Linked DNA regions of Homo sapiens: region 2 is linked to region 1. The links come from fine-mapping of genetic effects on gene expression. A gene starts in region 1. The other region holds a variant in brackets. All regions are shown on one strand. Distances are from middle to middle. Region 1 holds the start of FLT1 (fms related receptor tyrosine kinase 1). Region 2 has its middle 66 kb from the start of POMP.

The links. PIP is the estimated chance that this variant, and not a neighbour inherited with it, causes the effect.
Region 2: its variant is fine-mapped to the expression of FLT1 in whole blood (TOPMed, PIP above 0.99).

Annotation. Positions count from the first base shown.
Region 1 is chr13:28,490,101-28,499,152 of GRCh38, forward strand. FLT1 (fms related receptor tyrosine kinase 1) reads right to left here and starts at 5,028. Exons shown (of 30, transcript NM_002019.4): 1 at 4,680-5,028. The coding sequence starts at 4,743. RefSeq lists silencers at 4,514-4,563, 4,644-4,763, 4,884-4,933.
Region 2 is chr13:28,588,190-28,597,241 of GRCh38, forward strand. No RefSeq gene overlaps it. Among named protein-coding and RNA genes, the nearest start is that of POMP, 66 kb to the right of the region's middle. The variant C/T (reference allele first, on the strand shown) is at 4,256.

The DNA.
Region 1 (9,052 bases):
CCGCTAGCCAGCTGTTGACCTTGAAAAACAGCACTGGCCTCCTCTGGGCCGGTTTTCTCATCTCTGGCATGAGTAGATTGGGTCAATGAGGTTCCATCTAGCTCTTACAACGTGTGTGTGTATCTGTGAGACAAGATCAAGTTCCTCAAAGAGCTCAAAATTGAGGAAAGGAGCAGCAATCAGAAACAGCTTTCAGGCATCCAGCTTTACCAAGATGGATGGGAAATCCCCAGGAATTCTTGACATCTCCCCACATCCGCCCCAGCGGCAATGCAGGAAATCTAGTCCACTATCTTCAGCAGACTCAATGCAACTGTTTCCTTAATGAACCCCCCTGCAGCCCCGTGAGCTAAGTCAGAGGCTTTCTTTTCAAGCCCTCCCTCAAATACCCCATTCCTCCAATTTCCTTCCCCTCCCTCAATCTGGTATAAAATCCAGCAATTTAATCAGCAGCATGCAATTTCCACAGCACCCAAGAGTGTGAGGAACCACCAGTGATCCTGGAAAGCATCTGGCAGGAGATCTTGTCATTTCTTACAAGCCTCTCCTATAAACGAAGGCCAATGGAGCAGAATGGACTGTTCGGTTCTACCAAATTGCTTAAACCAAATGCCACAGATGGTCTATACTTTTAACTACTCACAGTAATATATTTTTACTTAAAAAAAAGTCTGGTATGATTTCAAATGCCCTTCCTCCCCTACCTGCAATGACAAATGCACTGAAAAATGATGATATTTACTTGATACCCAACACACCCCTAACTGTGAGATCCAAACCAAGAATTAGACACGCCTGGCCTCTACTAACACCAGCAGGCTTCGCATTTAACATTCACGTGCCAAGATAGCTTCTCTCACTTTTTCTCCATTCTTATCCCCACCCACATACACATATCAGTTTAAAGCACTACAGAAGCTACTTACTCTGTTATTTGTTCTTGTCTTGCCCAACTGCCCAAGCCAGGTCAAATATCAGCCATAACTCTGCTGTGTAGATCTCAATAGGCTGCATAACCTTCCTCGAGGACATTACATTATTTTGGTCAATATGAAACCATTTTTTGGTAACACATCACCTTCAACTTCCATATTAAATAAATTTAAAGTAGACTTAGAAATGTCTCGATCATTTTTGGAAAGAACAAAGTAATTACTTGGTTTGTTTCTTAAAAGTCACGTAAAGTAGACTCAATTTTAAATAAGGGGTTTAGTATCCCTGTTAAAATCTGGAACTTTTTTTAAAAGAATAAAGCCATTCTGTTAATCAAATAAGTGTTAGCTTTAAAAATTCAAGAAATAAATAGGGGTTTAAAATGACTGCTATCCTTAGAAGAGTTAATGCAACTAGAGTTTTGAGGGAGCATCTACTTTATAGAGTTATACATTCTGCTAGTGAAAAAAGCCCAAGATAAAGATGACTGCTGGCTCAGGCATCCTCTACCAGCCCATCTCTTCCAAAACAGCCTATTCAAGGCCAAATTGACTGGCTGTTTAGGTACATGCTACTAAAGAAAAAGAAAGTTTAATGTGATTAGCAGGGGAAACCCAGTTCATCCTAACAGCCCCAGCATCATATGGTTTCTCATCCACTCTATATACAAATATAAATAAGGTGGGGAAGAGAAAAGAGAAAGACAGACACGGTGTTCAGGCCATTTCTTGGAATCATTCATTGAATTTTGGAGTCAGAAAAGGGCCTTAGAAATCAACCACCTATACTAACGTCTTCATTTTACATACGAAAACAAAGTACCCACTTGGTGATCGTTAGAAAAGAAACCAGATAGCCTATTATAGAATGTCCAACAGGGAAATTTTAAAAATGTAACAAAGTGCTAAAATAGTAAGCAACAATATTTGAGGAACTGGAGTAAGTAGTCACCTACAGTTCCTTTGTAACATGATGCTTCAGTTGGAAAACTGTAGGCTGCCAAAGCTCCTAAATAATTAATATTTCGAATATGCAATTTAGACCAAAAAAAAGTGCAGCTTCATAAAACCTTGGAGAAAACAACAAAAATTGTTACAAAAAATTAACTTTATTATAAGAGATTTATTACATTCAATTTGAAATAGGTATTTTCATGTGCACTTTGATTTAATATTATTAATATGGACTTCCTTCACAAAATTCACAATTTCAGTATTTCCACTTAGTTATAGTAAATTGTAAATGTTAGCTGTTCAAGAACTCAAGAAAAATGAGGGCAAAGAAAAAGGTCTGTAGCTTTCATCCAGGTTGTGATACCTTAAAAGTAAGAAATGAGACTCAGAGCTGGAGAAAGAGGACTGGTATCCTTTATAGAGAAAGAGCAATAGAGAGGACTTGAAAGTATCTGAATTATTGGCATCTTTTTATTTCCCAGAATGTCTGGAAGAGGTAAATAAGCGCTTTAGAGGGGAAAGGCATTATCTTTTTGTAATACTGAGCCTCTGGTTATTTTACCTCTCAATGCATGTGCACACCAGGCATGCACACACACAGAATATTAATAGCTGATAAGTATTCAAAGATTACATAGTACCTGAAGGAAGGCAGACCCAGGTTCATAATGACGCAAGAGAACTCTGCAGTGGGGAACCGTGGCTTCTTACTAGACATTGCTTCCCGGATATGCAGCCTCTCAGTTGAGCATGAAAGCCCTGATGCGGTTTGTAAAGTAGGCGGTAGCTGATTGTTTTACTGTGAGATGCTTGTTAACCAGACAGAGAAACTATGAGTTTTCAAAAGCACCCATGATGCCGACTGAGCTAACATGAACTAACAGAGTGTTCTGTTAACTGTTAGGTAAAGAGGTTCTCAGCTTGCCAATGTTAGTCCTTTCTTCCCAAAAAAGTGCAAATAAAAAAAAAAAAGAAATTCAGAGTTGCAAAACTGCTGCCCCATTTAAGTAAATTATAATCTAAGAAAAATCACAAGAGGATCCCACTCACATTTCTGTAAAGTTTCCACTGATCTAAGATGCTTCCAATTACAAAGAAAACGATGCTTCACTAAAGTCAGCATGTTTTCAAAATAAAGATATAATTATGTGAAGCAGAAAATCTAATAAATCACGTACTTTTCCCTCCGTAATTTTAGATTCATGTAATTTAGCTAGATTTATCTTTACATAATAGTCGAGTGAGGTATTTAAATTCTCTAAGCAATTATATTTTAATACAAGTGACTTTTCAAAACAAAAAATGTATTTGTGAAATAGAAAATACAACATTTTATTTAATATAGTTATGTTAGCACCTTTCCCAACCTACAGTGAGTTCTCAGAAGTTACCACTTCGCCCTGTCTCCGGGTTTAGTAGTTTCTCCAATCTAATTGGAACTATTACTTGTTACTTGGAAACTGACGGTCTAGTTAGTCTTCCCACTGAGAAAGAATATTTAATTATTACTGCTTTTTGGGTTTAACAAGCTTTTTGTTGTTGTTGTTGTTGTACTACGCTCCATCCTATTGACTTTTCTTCCCGGGAATCATTGCAATGACTTATTTTATATTACTATATTTTATTTCATATTTTACCTTTTCTCCACGATGCTTAAAAGAAAGGCGCTCCGAAATCTGGCTCTCTGCGCCCAGGGGAACGAGGCACAAATCTCCGCCACTCAGCCCCACTGAGCAGAGACTGCGAGTCCGAACCCTCAAGTTCCTCGGGGCTTTGACCCCTCAATGGCGGCGGTCTAACTGCTGGTAAAACCCCCGGCCCCTGACTGTTCCACCGCCCGTCTCCCAAACGCCCAGCGAAGGCTGACTTAGGTGGCGGGCGGACCTCATCGATTCCTCAAACCACATCGTTTGGTCAAAATCGCCCGCCCTCTCTTCGCTCGGATTTTAAAGGCTAGGCTTGTAAGTCAGTAAGTTAACGGTATTTGGGCCCTGGGCTGCCCTTGTGGGTCAGGGTCACTGATGTCCGCGACACGGACTGGACCGCGCACCACGCCTGCTCCCGGCAGAGGCCCCACCCGGGTGGCTGAGCGCAGCGCACTGGGGCCCCGCGGTCCGAGAGCGGCGGGGAGGAGCGGGCGCTCGCCGAGCGTTCCCCGGGACAGTCCGGCTTGGGGACTCAAGCGGGTCATGGGATGCCGGCGCTGGCCCTCTCCTGAGATCCTCCTGCTCCCCCGCAGGCACGAGTCCCCTCCAAATCGGCTCCCCTCCTACACTCTCGTGACGCGAGGTCGCGGCCAGTGCCCAATATCACCAAAGTCCCGGCCTCAGCCCAGCCCCGGGCAGCCTGGCAGGCTTTCAGGAGCCTCTGCTCCCGGCTCCGGGGGACCCTGCGTACCTGCCCCAGGTCCTCTGGGAATGGGCTCTGGGTGCCAGGCAGGTCCCGGTGCGTGCTGCTCCTAGTGCCCAGGGCCTCGGCAGTGAGACCCCAACCCGACAGCTGGATAAGGGATCAGCGATCCTGTCGCAAACGGACAGCCCCAGCGCGGACCCGGTCTGAGCGCTGATGCTCGCGGGTCCAGGCCAGCCACTCCTCGAGGCGCTCCCTCGGAGAAAGGGCGCAGCGGCCCCAAGCGTGCCCGCTGCAACTAGTGTCCCAGGTTCTCGCCGTAGCCAGCTTCTCCGGGCTACAGCCTCGTCTCCCCGCGTGCACCCCGCCCTGGCCTCGGAGGCTCTGCCCTCCGGCCGCCCCATCGCAGCCCGCCTCAGGCCCCGGCCCCCAGCCGCGCCTCACCTGTGAGAAGCAGACAGCTGAGCAGCGCGCACAGCAGGACCCCGGTGTCCCAGTAGCTGACCATGGTGAGCGCGACGCGGCCTGCTCGCCCGGTGCCCGCGCTCCCCGCGGCCAACGACCCGGCCGCCAGAGTCCGTCCTCTCGTTCGCCGCCGCCGGCCCCGCGCCCTGAGCGCCCGTCTCGCGGCTCCAGCCAGGAGACAACCACTTCCCCGGGTAATCCTCGCCGCCAGGCGCCCGCTGGCCGCTGCACCCGAGCCCCGGAGCCCGCTCCGAGCCGCCGCCGCTGCCGGGGAGGAGCCGAGAGGAGTGTCCGCCTGGCGCGCTCCGAGCCTCCCGCGGACCTCGATGAAGAGCAGCCGAGGGCGGGGGCGATTTATAACCTTTCCCCAGCCCACTTCCTACCCCGGCACCTCCTTCTGGTGACGTCAAGGGGTCCCCCACCCCTCATCCGCCTCCCCACCTACCCTCTTCTTCCTCCCAGGCTCGCTTCCCTGCGGCTACGGAGAGGGGCGGGGGCCGACGAGGGCGGGTGGCCCGGGGCCGAGCGCGCGTGGGGAGGTGCTGGCGACGCGGGCCCGGGAGCGCGGCCCCGGCAGGTTCAGGGTCTTTGCTCCGCGCCCTCTTGCCCTTGCCCCTCCTCCTGCCCATCGCGCTCAGGAAATCCTTGCAGACTCCCTCCACCCGGCTTACTCAGCTCTGGGGGCCGCCCGAAACTGGGGAAGGGACAAGGCTGAAGCTCCGCCGCCTGGCCCTAGGGGCGGAAAGTCCGATCCAAGGGAAGCTGGCCGCGCCTCCGCGACGGTGTTCTTGGCACGGAGGACTGAGGCGCAGTCCGGCTGTCTCCCCTTGCCTGCTCTTCCCGCGCTGTCCCGCCGCTCCTGACCCCTTCAGACTGTCCCGAGAAGTCTAGGAAGGCACCGGAGACCCTCGGCACAAGGCACTGAACCTGGAGCGCCTGAGGGGAACTGACGCTTGCTTGGCACCTTTGGGAAGACTGCGAACCAGCTCAGGTCCCAGGGGAGCGTGTCCGTGTCTTTTTCGGCCGCATTGATGCACCCGCCCAAGTCATTTCCTCAGTCTTCTGCTTCCTAGAAGCAAAACAAGGAATAACATTATGATACCTTTAAAAAGCTGAGGCGTGAAACTGCTCCTGCAACTTGGAAGCGCAGGGCACTTGAACTTTATTCCCTAAATGCTCGAAAAAGAAATCTTTCTGGTGGCAGCTTGCTACTCAAGATGAGTGACTCTGACCACAACCGGCTGAAATTAACTTGAGGCCCTAGATCATTTGCTATGACACTAATTCCACGTTGTTCCTCAATTATGTCTCCATTACCTCAAAGGCTGAAGTCGTCCTGGCTGCACGGAGCAGCCCAGTCTTGTCTCTGTAAATACCGCAGATTTGAAAAATAGTCCTATTGGAACCCGTCAGAGGGATGTAATACAAGGGACTGTGATGGCTCTTGAACGGAGCCAGAGACTCTTCCTGAAGGACTGGACTACCTCCCCGCCTAGGAAGGTTGGGTAACCCAAAGTTGCCACATTTCTGGGCTGCACACCAAGGAGAGGCCCCGGCCACTCCACACAGGAAATGCACGTCTGGGCACCTGGAGCCGCAGGACCTGAGCCACTAACTGTCCCTGGATCCCTTCTGCTTCAGAGGCAAGGAAGACTGCCGGAGTCATTGCTTGCCTGCTGGCTTCACCAGCGCTTTCTGTTTTTCCAGTTCTCCTCACCACTCTTCCTGGCGCCTTTCTCTGCCTCCCGCACCCCTGCCTCCTCTAAAACCCACAGCATCATCCCTCAGAACAGCTGGAAGCGGACAGCTGATCCTTCTCCTTGCTGGTCCCCCAGCCCAGAACACAGCCTGGGACATACGTGCGGAGCCACAGTGTCTGTTGGTCTCACCTGAGAGCTGCTTGTCACTCCCACACCCTCTTTCAAGGAGAAGCTGTCAGCATTGTCCTTCTGCAGCATTCAACAGGGGCCAGGCATTGGGTTAGGGCTGAAAACACTGATGGAGAGCCATCATCTTTGCCTTCTAAAGGGCTTGGACTGTGATAAGAAGGTGGACACTTGAAGTGGCTGCAGGACCGGCATTCCAGTGCTGGAGGGGTGTTTAGTCCTCCATCAGCTCAGAGAAGTAAAGGCACATTTATTGGCAGGGAAAACCCAAGGAGGGCTTCTCAGGAGAGACACACATTTGACTCTGGGGGAAAGTGGTCCATAGTACCATGTACAAAGGTTTAATTTGCTAATACATTTTTTCAAATGCCATTTTGATATTTTTAACTCATAAAGAGACAACACTTTCCAAACCTGCTGCCAGCAATGAATCTACATTGTGTCTGTAAAGCCAGAACAGGTATTTGATGGACAGCTGAAACAATCTTTATAATCTAAGATGCTAATCAATGATATTAACATGTTGCTCAATTATTTAAGGTTAGTAGAGTCACAGTCGAATCTAAGATTTATATTAAAACTATGCTGCAGTAAGGGTGGGCTTCCACATTTCCCAACTACTCTTTTGAAAAGTTGCTTTTAATTAGAGTCAGCAATTTATTGACTATGACTTCTTTGTTAGTTGCATTAGCGTTCTCACAAAGAACTCAAAAATGCTACAAATTTTAGCTTAGATATGGGGAATAAATGTATAGCTCCCAATCCTCTCCCCAAAAGAGATAATACCTTTGAATGAGAATGGGCTATAGCACTCTCCTAACTAAATCACTAATGAAAGAGGTTTTATAGATAATACTGATGGAGAAGATGGAATTCAACACGCCTGGTGGGTATAAAAAGCTATTGAAGTAGGCAATCTGCTTGCTTCCTGCTCACATACAAAAGAACATTTCATCTCCTGTTTGGTTAGCAAAACCAGACACTCTCTCTTGTTATCAGCTACAAACATTCTCTTGAGGTTTCTTTCTCACCCCTATTCAGAAGCACACTGTTGCTAAATCCATCAGCTTTAATATTCGAGACTGAATAAGAGTGTTGGAGCACCAGTGTGAGAGACAGGAGGGAGCCCAGGCTCTCACCTTCCTCCAAAGACCAAGCATGGAGCTGATCAGCCACAGTCACTGAGGATCAGTCAGGAATTTCTTTTCCACTTGGGTTAGGTAGCTTGATACAAAAGGAAAAATACACTCTATGGGCATACTCTGCATAATGCAAATATGTATGGTTGAATACAAGAACCAAATGATCTCATAAAACCCTTCTGTGTTATATTTTAAAAAGCTTCACAGTACATATCCTCTGGACAGTTCAGGCTCCTTGGTCTAAAAAGCACACGCTCCCAAATCTCTGCTAAGAAGTTCTGCGGAGTTCACCAGGCAGGCACATGTATGAGTTTACTTATCAGATGCTGATGACCCCATTGGCTCAAAAGTCTTGCTATGGGAAGCTACCACTGTGGCTGAAATGCCCCCATTTTCAAAGAACTTAAACATCTTGTACTGGGTTTAAAAGCCATTCAACCCATCTACCGAGTCAATTCGTGGAATTCCTATTCAATGCTCCAATATCTCCACATGAAAATTTATTGAACACTTAAAAACACCTCCTGTGCCATGGGCATCTTGTCTCCAGCCTCAACATCCACATCCCTTTGGTCACTCTTCAGCTGACACGCTCCAGAAATTCCATCCAGCATATCAGTGTCCCTGCAGGTGACACGCTTAGGATTGAAAATGCAGCACAATTATCATTTCCCTACTCCTAGAGGTAGTTTTTCTTTCAGGCAGAGAGAAAAGCCTGTGGGAAGGCCCAGTGGGAGCGAGGAAGGAAAATCGTTCAGGTGGGAAGAGCAGCGTGGAGAAGGAAGCAAAGGGGACAGCCCCCTCCTGGAGATAAGGCCAGTGCCACCGAGAGCAGGGCAGCACTGCCCTGGTGGCACCTCTGGGGCCGCCGGCCTGGGCTCCCTGGCTCCTCCTGTTCCTGCTACTCATGCTCCCGTCTGCTCCTGACTACCTTCTCCCGGGCATGGGTGGGCGCTGCTGGTGTTTATAAGATCGCCATTGGCTTTACTTGGAATTCTCCTCCTGCTACTCCCAGGGGCTACTACGGAGAGAACTTGCTTCTGTTCCTGGGACCTAAGATCAAAGGAGCCTTTTCTGTCAGCGCCTTCATACCTTGGACTCTTCCAGAACTTATTCTTGGTTAAAGCCCCAAGGCTTTCTCATGAGAGCTGCTATCTGGCTGCCCTTGTGCAGCCGCCGCTTGGGTTGACTCAGGCTGCAGGCCCTGAGCGTGTTGTTTAAGCCTTTTGTTTGTTTTAGTCTGTCTTTCCAGCATGTCGAAGTCTTTCTGGTCTCTGATTCTGCCATCCTGTGGACTTTCTATAGCTCCCGCTTCAAATGATCC
Region 2 (9,052 bases), 98 kb after region 1:
CAAAATTAAAGGACAACAAACATATTGGGAAAATATTTGCAATCTGTGACAAAGGCAAATCACCTTAATATAAAAATAGCCTTTACAAATCAATAAAAGATGAATACCACACAGAAAACCAACAATGACAATTAAAAAAATGAAGCCAAGAAAAACATAAAGAGATAATTTGTAAGCGAGGAAATACAACATGATAAAATCGCAAATGAAGAAAAACACTCCACACTCACAAGTAATTAAAGAAAAGCAAAATGAAGCAACAATGAGATCCTTTTTCACTTATCTAATTAGCAAACATTTTGTTTCCTTTTTTTAGTGATGAAATTCAGTATTGGCCGGAGTTCAGAAAATGAATCTCTTTTATTCATTGGTAGGAGTGTAAACTGGCAAACCTTTTCTGGAGAGACATTTGGAATATTTATTAGTGGCTCTTCAAAGCAGTATTTCTCATTATATGCACCACAGAGAATTGGTTAGGTAAGCTACGGTACATCCACATGGCGCCATTAAAATGTTGCAGAAGAAAGATTCAGTGATGTTGAGAAAAGTAGATTACAAGATCATATATTCAATATGAGTATAGTTTTTGTTTTTTTTAAAAAATGTATAGAAGGACCTGAAGAACCGGATTCTTAGTCACATAAAATTACTATTTGAAATTTACTTTGCTTCCATGAATGAACCTACTTAAAAATTTATTTATTTATTTTTTGAGACGGAGTTTCACTCTTGTTGCCCAGGCTGGAGTGCAATGGCACCATCTCGGCTCACCACAACCTCCGCCTCCCAGGTTCAAGTGATTCTTCTGCCTCGGCCTCTGGAGTAGCTGGGATTAACATGTGTGAGCCACCACACCTGGCTAATTTTGTATTTTTAGTACAGATGGGATTTATCCGTGTTGGTCAGGCTGGTCTCGAACTCCCAACCTCAGGTGATCCGCCCACCTCGGTCTCCCAAAGTGTTGGGATTACAGGCGTGAGCCACCGTGCTGGCTTAAATATTTAATAGGAAGAATTTCCCTAGTGGTAATTTGTTCTATGAATTTTTTTTTTTTTGATGGAATTTCCCTAGTGGTAATTACTTTGTTCTATGATTTTTTTTTTTTTTTTTTGATGGAATCGCATTCTGTCGCCAGGCTGGAGTGCAGTGGCACGACCTTGGCTCACTGCAACCTCCGCCTCCCAGGTTCAAGCGATTCTCTTGCCTCAGCCTCCCGAGTAGCTGGGATCACAGGTGCTGGACCACGCCCAGCTAATTTTTTTTTTTTCTTTTTTTTTTTTTTTTTGAGACAAAGTCTCGCTCTGTAGCCCAGGCTGGAGTGCAGGGGCGCAATCTCGGCTCACTGCAAGCTCCGCCTCCCGGGTTCACGCCATTCTCCTGCCTCAGCCTCTGGAGTAGCTGGGACTACAGGCGCCCACCACCATGCCCGGCTAATTTCTTCTAGTAGAGACGGGGTTTCACCATGTTGGCCAGGCTGGTCTCAGTCTCTTGACCTCATGATCTGCCCGCCTCAGCCTCCCAAAGTGCTGGGATTACAGGCTTGAGCCACCCCGCCCGGCCTTATGAATATTTATTAAACTCCTCCATAAGCCACGTGCCACTCTAGGTGAAAGAGACAGAAGTGAATAAGGCAAACGTCTAGCTTTTATATCCCTTTTCATAGGGAACACAACAATAAATAAGCAAAACCAACAGAAATAAGAGGGTGATAGTTTCATGAAGAAAACACAATAAGTTACTGGGACAGAGATTGTAAGGAGGTCAGGGGGCAACATTACGTACAATGATGGATCTGATGGATCTGATGAAATGATATTTGAGTTGGGACCAGAGTGACGAAAAGGATTCCAGGCAGAAGGGAGAACAGGGGCCAAAGCCCTGGGGTGGGAACAGCACTGAAATACTTATGGAACAGAAATAAGTTCAGTGGGGCGAGAGTCTGTGTGTGAAGACAGCAAGAGAGTAAGAAATGAAGTCAGAGTTAGGCAGGCCCCAAATCACTTACACTCTTAGGTCAATGGAAGGCAATGGGAAGCCACTGGAGGACTTCATTAAAATTTGATAAAATGCATTCTTAAGGATCAAACATAAAATCTAAACTTTCGGTAATCATTTATGGTTAAAAGTTAACGTTAGGTATATAAATCTTCTTTAATAAAACAATTCTGTGGGACAGATCTGCTACCAAGGCTCAGAGAAGTTGAGTGGCCTGACCACAGTCACACAGCTGATAGGTAGCAGGATTGGGACTAGAGCCTGGGGCTCCTGCGCCCCAGGTCAGTTACTAGGCATGAATAGAAACACCGCACTGCAACACTGAATGTTAGCCGACATGGCAGCTAAAATGCACACATTAGCATTACCAAATGAGTGAGCCGATTGAGCAAGTGAGTTCTCCTACCACTACCTCCCCTTAGCATTGGCTTTGAAGACGGTAACCGGGAAAACTCAGACTGGGTCGCCCCATGTTATTGCGCCAGGACTGGAGACTCTGAGAAGCTGGTTGCAACATTTGGCGTCTTCGCTTCGGATGCTCTATAAGCCTTTTGAGAGATGAGCCTGAGTTTGTGGCGGCAGGCTCCCTTTTGAAAGAGCCACCCAATCTGGCCTCCCCAGACATCTTCCTGGAGGAGGATTGAGCATTATTCCAAAAAAGAAGGGTGGCCTCGAGCTGGCCCATCAGGCCCTAGCAATACCCAGCTCCTCATCAGGATGGGTGCAATGTTTGTTTTGGACTTTAAGCTTCTCTTTCACCCTTCGCTCTTTGTTTCCAAGGCAAGGCCAGTCAAGCTGAGCCCTCTCAGCAGAGCCTTTTCCAGCAGCTGCAGAAGCCGCCTCACAACAGCCACTGGCTGGTGCTTCTTCCTCTCTGTGTGGGATGTTGCCTCTTACTCCTCTCGCAGTCTACCTGGCTCTCCTTGGCTTGCGCAGCCGTGGGCTGGGGAAGCATAGGGTACCCTCAGTGGTCAGTTTTATCTCTGAGTCCCCAGAATGCTGCTCTTGATTAGCTGGACCTTTCCCAGTCTGGGCTTTGCAGCTTGCACTTATATTTTCTCTGGACAGTCCAACTGTTCTTTCACAGAGTCCTTCAAACACATGGCTCTTTGAGATTTGAGTTTGCTTCTTATTTTTTCTTTAGAGATGGGGTTTTGTACTGTCACCCAGGCTGGAGTGCAGTGGCAGGGTCATAGCTCGCTGCAGCCTCCAACTCATGGATTCAAGCAATCCTCCCATTTCAGCCTCCTGAGTAGCTGGGACTATAGGCAGGTGCCATCTCACCCAGCTAATTTAAAAACTTTTTTTTTTTTTTTTTTTTTTTTTGTAGAGATGAGATCTTGCTTTGTTGCCCAGGCTGGTCTCAAACTCCTGGCCTCAAGCAATCTCCTGCCTCAGCCTCCCAAAGTACTGGGATTACAGGTGTGAGCCACTGCAGCCGGCTTCCAGACTTCTTAAATAAGGAGGTAAGTTGTGAGGTACCTGGAGTAGTGAAATGTATCAAGACAGAAAGTAGAATGGGGGTTGTTAGGGGCTGAGGGGAAGGGGGAATGGGGAGTTTTTGTTTAATGGGTATAGAATTTCAGTTTTGCAAAGTGAAGAAAAGTTCTGGAGATCCATTGCACAATAAGGTGAATATACTTAATGAACACTACAGAATTGGAAACTTAAAAAATAGTTAAACCAACCTGGCTGACACAGTGAAACCCCGTCTCTACTAAAAATACAAAAAAAAAAAAAAATAGCCGGGCACAGTGGCTCATGCCCATAATCCCAGCTACTCGGGAGGCTGAGGTGGGAGAATCACTTGAACCCAGGAGGCAGAGGTCGCAATGAGCCGAGATGACACTACTGCACTCCAGCCTGGGTGACAGGGTGAGACCCTATCTCAAAAAAAAAAAAAAAAAAAAGGTTAAGATGGCCAGTTTTCTGTTATGTGTTTTTTAAAACCATGGTTTTGAAAAAAAGCAGATAAAGAGTGGACCTGATCTCCCCATAGTTTGCTGCCCTCTTGTCTGCCCGCCTGCCCGCTTGAACACATGGAGCTCTCCTTCCCTGTGTGTAAGACTGATCTTTGGTAATGAGATGCCTTGACCTGCCACTTGATGTCATGGGATAACTGAGAGCCCACTACCTTGAAGTCTCCGTGAAGACACAGTCCACCGCCTCAAAACACTCCACTGATGCCTCCAACCCCACTGACCTCAGCAACCCTTCCTGTCAAAGTCACAGATGACTTCCACTTTGCCAAATGCAACGG[C/T]CATTTTCTGGTCTTCCTCTCAGCTTCTCTCTTGGACACAATTGACTTCCTTCTTGAAATATACTCTTGTTTTGGTTTCAGGACCACCTCGATGTCCTGGTTTCTGCCTAACTTAATAAACATTTGGATCCCTTCACTGGTTCCACCTCTTCTCAAATGACTAACTGTTGGTGTAGCCCAGGGCTCTGTCCTTGGCCTGCTTCTCTTTTCCCTCAGCATTTTCTCTCTAGAGCATCTCAACTATCCCTGAGACTTACAGATAAGTCAACAAGATAATTCCCAGATCTGTGCTTTCAGCCTGGATCTTCCTACTAAGTTTTAAATTATGCCTCCAACTGCCTTCTTGACCTCTCCACTTGGATGTCTGTATCAACCCATTATGAATTTTCAATTCATTGGGGGTATAAACATGAAGTCGGTTCATGTTTTTCCATAACTGCCCTGATTATGCTAGTCTCAATACTCAAGAATCTTGGGATACTTCAGTCCAATTCCACAATGTCCAGATTATTATTACTATTATTATTTTGAGACGGAGTCTCGCTTAGCTGCCCAGGCTGGAGTGCAGTGGTGTGATCTCGACTCACTGCAACCACCATCTCCCAGGTTCAAGCAATTCTCCTATCTCAGCTTCCCAAGTAGCTGGGATTACAGGCACCCGCCATCATGCCCAGCTAATTTTTGTATTTTAGTAGAGATGGGGTTTCACCATGTTGGCCAGGCTGGTCTTGAACTCCTGACCTCAGGTGATCTGCCCGCCTCAGCCTCCCAACATGTTAGGATTACAGGCGTGAGCCACTGCGCCCGGCCGATGTTGAGATTACTAAAGTAGTCTCATTCTAGATTTTAAAATCTCATTACTATTTATACTTAAATATTATCTCAATGGTCAATTCTTTGTCTAGGACATCAAATTGTTAAATAGGTCTAAAACACCTTGAAATAACAGAAAGCAAGGAATCGATAAAAAAAATCTTAGGCCCATGCCAAAAGAATCCAGGAGCCAGCATGAAGTCTCCTTCTGTCTAAAGATGGAAATGTTTGAACAATAAAAATAACAACTGCAGTGGATTAAACACATTAAAATCCTTAAATGTATAAGTTCACAATGAAACTTCAAAAAACTCTCTCATTTGTCCTCTTTTAAGGATGACTAGGCAACCAACACATTATTTTGAAAACTTGTAAATAAAAAGAAAAAATAAATGTTTCCAGCATAAAATGAGCCTCAGGACAACCCAGTAGTTAAAGAGGGAAATTTATCTTTACAGAAGTATTTCAGCTAATAAAGAAAGAAGGATTAAATTGGAATATCACATTTTTTGGAACCTCTGGTGAAATCATTGTTCTTGGCAATAATCACTAATAATGGCTAAAAAGACAACTGTAGAAAAAAGCATAAGGGAAAAGCTTCACAATATTGGATTTAGCAAGGATTTCCTCAGTATGATACCAAAAGAACAGTCAACAAAAGGAAAAATAGACAAATGGGACTTTTAATCAAAATTAAAATTGATTAATTTTAATCAAAATTAAAAGCTTCTGTGTATCAAAAGACACAATCGAAAGAGTGAAAAAATAACCCACAGAATGGTAGAACATATTTGCAATTCATATAAGGGGTTATAAGGGGTTAGGATCCAGAATATATAAAGAATTCCAACAACTCAACAAAAACAAAAACAAAAACTCAATTAAAAAAATGGGCAAAGGACTCAAACAGACATTTATCTAAATATGATATACAAATGGCCAACAAGCATATGAAAGATGCTCAGCGTCACCGTCACTAATCATTAGGGAAATGCAAATCAAAACCACAATAAAATATAACCTCACACCTGTGAGGATGGCTAATCAAAAAACAAAAAAAGTACGCAATTAAACAAAAATAAAACAAGGGTTGGAGCAGAGGCAGAGAAATTGGAACGCTTGCACATTGTTGGTGGAATTGTAAAATGGTGCAGCTGCTGTGGAAAACAGTTTGAAGTTTCCTCAAAATACTAAAAATAGAATTGCCTTAGGATCCAGTCATTTGATTTCTAGGTATATACCCACAAGAATTAAATGAAGGATCTTGAAGTGATATTTGCACACCCATGTTTATAGCAGCATTATAGTCAAAAGGTGTAAACGGCCAAAGACTGGGCAGATTGATGGATGAATGGATAAACAAAATGAGGTACACACATACAATGGAGACCCTGAAAGTGAAAGGAATTCTGACACATGCTACAACATGAATCCTGAGAACACTATGATAAGTGAACAAACCTGTCACCAAAAGACAAATATTGTGTGATTCTGCTTATATGAGGTATCTAGAGTAGTCCAATTTCATAGAGACAGAAAGTAGAATGGTGATTGCCATGTGCTGGAATGGGGTCAATGAGGGGCTTTTGTTTAATGGGTGCAGAGTTTTAGTTCTGCAAGATGGAAAGGTTCTGGAGAGGGATGGTGGTGATGGTTGCAAAACAGTGTGAAGATACTAACGCTACTGAACCGTACACTTAAAAATACTTAAGATTGTACATTTTAGGTATGTGGTTTCATTTTTTTTTTTTTTGCCACAATAAAACGAAAAAGAGAGAGAAATAACCTGTGAAATAATCTTGCCAAAAAATCAAACCAATTTAAATCTGATCAAGCCTCTCCATCTAACTACCAATTTATAGAAAATGTGGGTCAGAGGAACATCTTAACAAGGTCGCTTGGAAGCAATCTGCAAAACCCAGACTGTGGGAAACTCTACAGGAAAAACAACCAAATTTCTTTAATAAATTGCAAGAAAATAAAGTAGAAAGCAGAAGAAACCACAGATTAAAGGATTCTTTATTTATTTATTTTTGTTTTTATTTTTTTTTTGAGACACAGTTTCACTCTTGTTTCCCAGGCTGGAGTGCAATGGCATGATCTCAGGTCACCACAACCTGTGCCTCCCGGATTCAAGCGATTCTCCCGCCTCAGCCTTCCGAGTAGCTGGGATTACAGGCATGCGTCACCACGCCTGGCTAATTTTGTATTTTCAGTTGAGACGGGGTTTCTCCGTGTTGGTCAGGCTGGTCTCTAACTCCTGACCTCAAGTGATCTGCCCGCCTCGGCCTCCCAAAGTGCTGGGATTACAGTAGTGAGCCACCATGCCCAGCCAAGGACTCTTAAAAGATATAAACATCAAGTGCAACGTATAGAACTTATGTGGATTCTTAATCAAACTATAAAAAATTATGGCACAATCTGGGAACATCTGATAATATTCAGGAATATAATGGCTATTTTAAGTCCTTATCTTTTGGCAATATCTACTAAAATATTTATGGTAAAATAGCCTGACGTCTGAGACCTGCTTAAAAATAATTGAGGTGGGAAAGTTGGAGGGTAAGTATGGATGAGCAAAACTGGCTGAGTTGGTCATTATTGAAGCTTGAAGCTTGGTGGCGGGAGTCAGCACACTATTCTTTCTGTTTTGTGAAATAGAAAGAATCCCCCTTTTGGCTGTCTCTCATATCTTTCTCCACATCTGGGCGGCATCAGCCAATGTCTGTACAACTTTTAGACAGAAGACAATCAGAACTGGGGACGGGGTTGAGGTCTGGTTGGGCACACCCACTCTGCAGTTGCTTATCTTTGAGTCTGTCCTTTCATTTATTGAATGAATGAATAAATGATATTTTTTAAAGCTGTGCATTGTGTTTGAAATTCTCCAATAAAAAGTTTTCCTTTTAAAATAGTAACCTTAGATTCTGCTTGAAGTCAGCCTCCTCTTCCCCCAGCAGCGTGACATAGGAGACAAAGTCATGGCGGGTACACATTTTTCCCCTCCAGCTCCCCTGGACCTACCCTCCTGGGTCGCAGCAGAAGGTGGAACAGAGCAGCAGGGACAGCTCCTTGCTGGGCTGCCCGGAGCAGGGAGGCAGTCTCCTCTCCCTGGATCGCTGTAGCCTTGTGGGCTACAGACACAAACAGTCTGACTGCTTGTGAGGCAGGGGTCACATGCTGGATCTCTCCTGGAACCAATCTTTGGATTTTCTAGACGCGCTTCAGATGTCCTTCCCTACTGCAGCTCTGCGGCGTGAAGATCGGGTTCTGGCTGGCGTTCACCTACGGCCTTCACCACAGCTCCTTGGTTGGCCCTGCATGAAGGACAGTGGCCTTCGGTGGGGTACCTAAGGTAGCTTAAGTCTAGCCACCTCTCAGCTGTCTAGAAAACCCACAGGAAATTCATGGGCCATTTCTGTGTCAAATGGAGGAAGTGCAGGCTGCCCAAGCGACACTCCCTCTTTTGGCTGTCTCTCCTACACCTTTCTCCACAACTGGGCAGCATTAGACAATGTCCGTACAACTTTTAGACAGAAGACAATCAGAACTGGGGACGGGGTTGAGGTCTGGTTGGGCACACCCACTCTGCAGTTGCTTATCTTGGAGTCCGTCCTTTCATTTATTGAATGAATGAATAAATGATATTTTTTAAAGCTGCACGTAAAATATGATCAAACTGAGCATACAATTAAGCTCTATTGGCCCAAGTGTTCCAAAGAGGGAGAGTCAGGACTTCATGAGATACACAGAATTGGCAACTGCAATAAGCTTGTTTCTAATTTCTCTCTGTGTTCTCTGTTCTTTTCTTTTCTTCTTTTCTTTTAAAGACAGGGTCTTGCCCCTTTGCCCAGGCTGGGGTGCAGCGGCAGTCATAGCTCACTGCAGCCTCGACTTCCTGGGCTCAAATCATCCTCCCACCATAGCCTCCTGAGTAGCTGGGACTACAGGCACACACCACCATGCCCGGCTAATTTTTTAAAT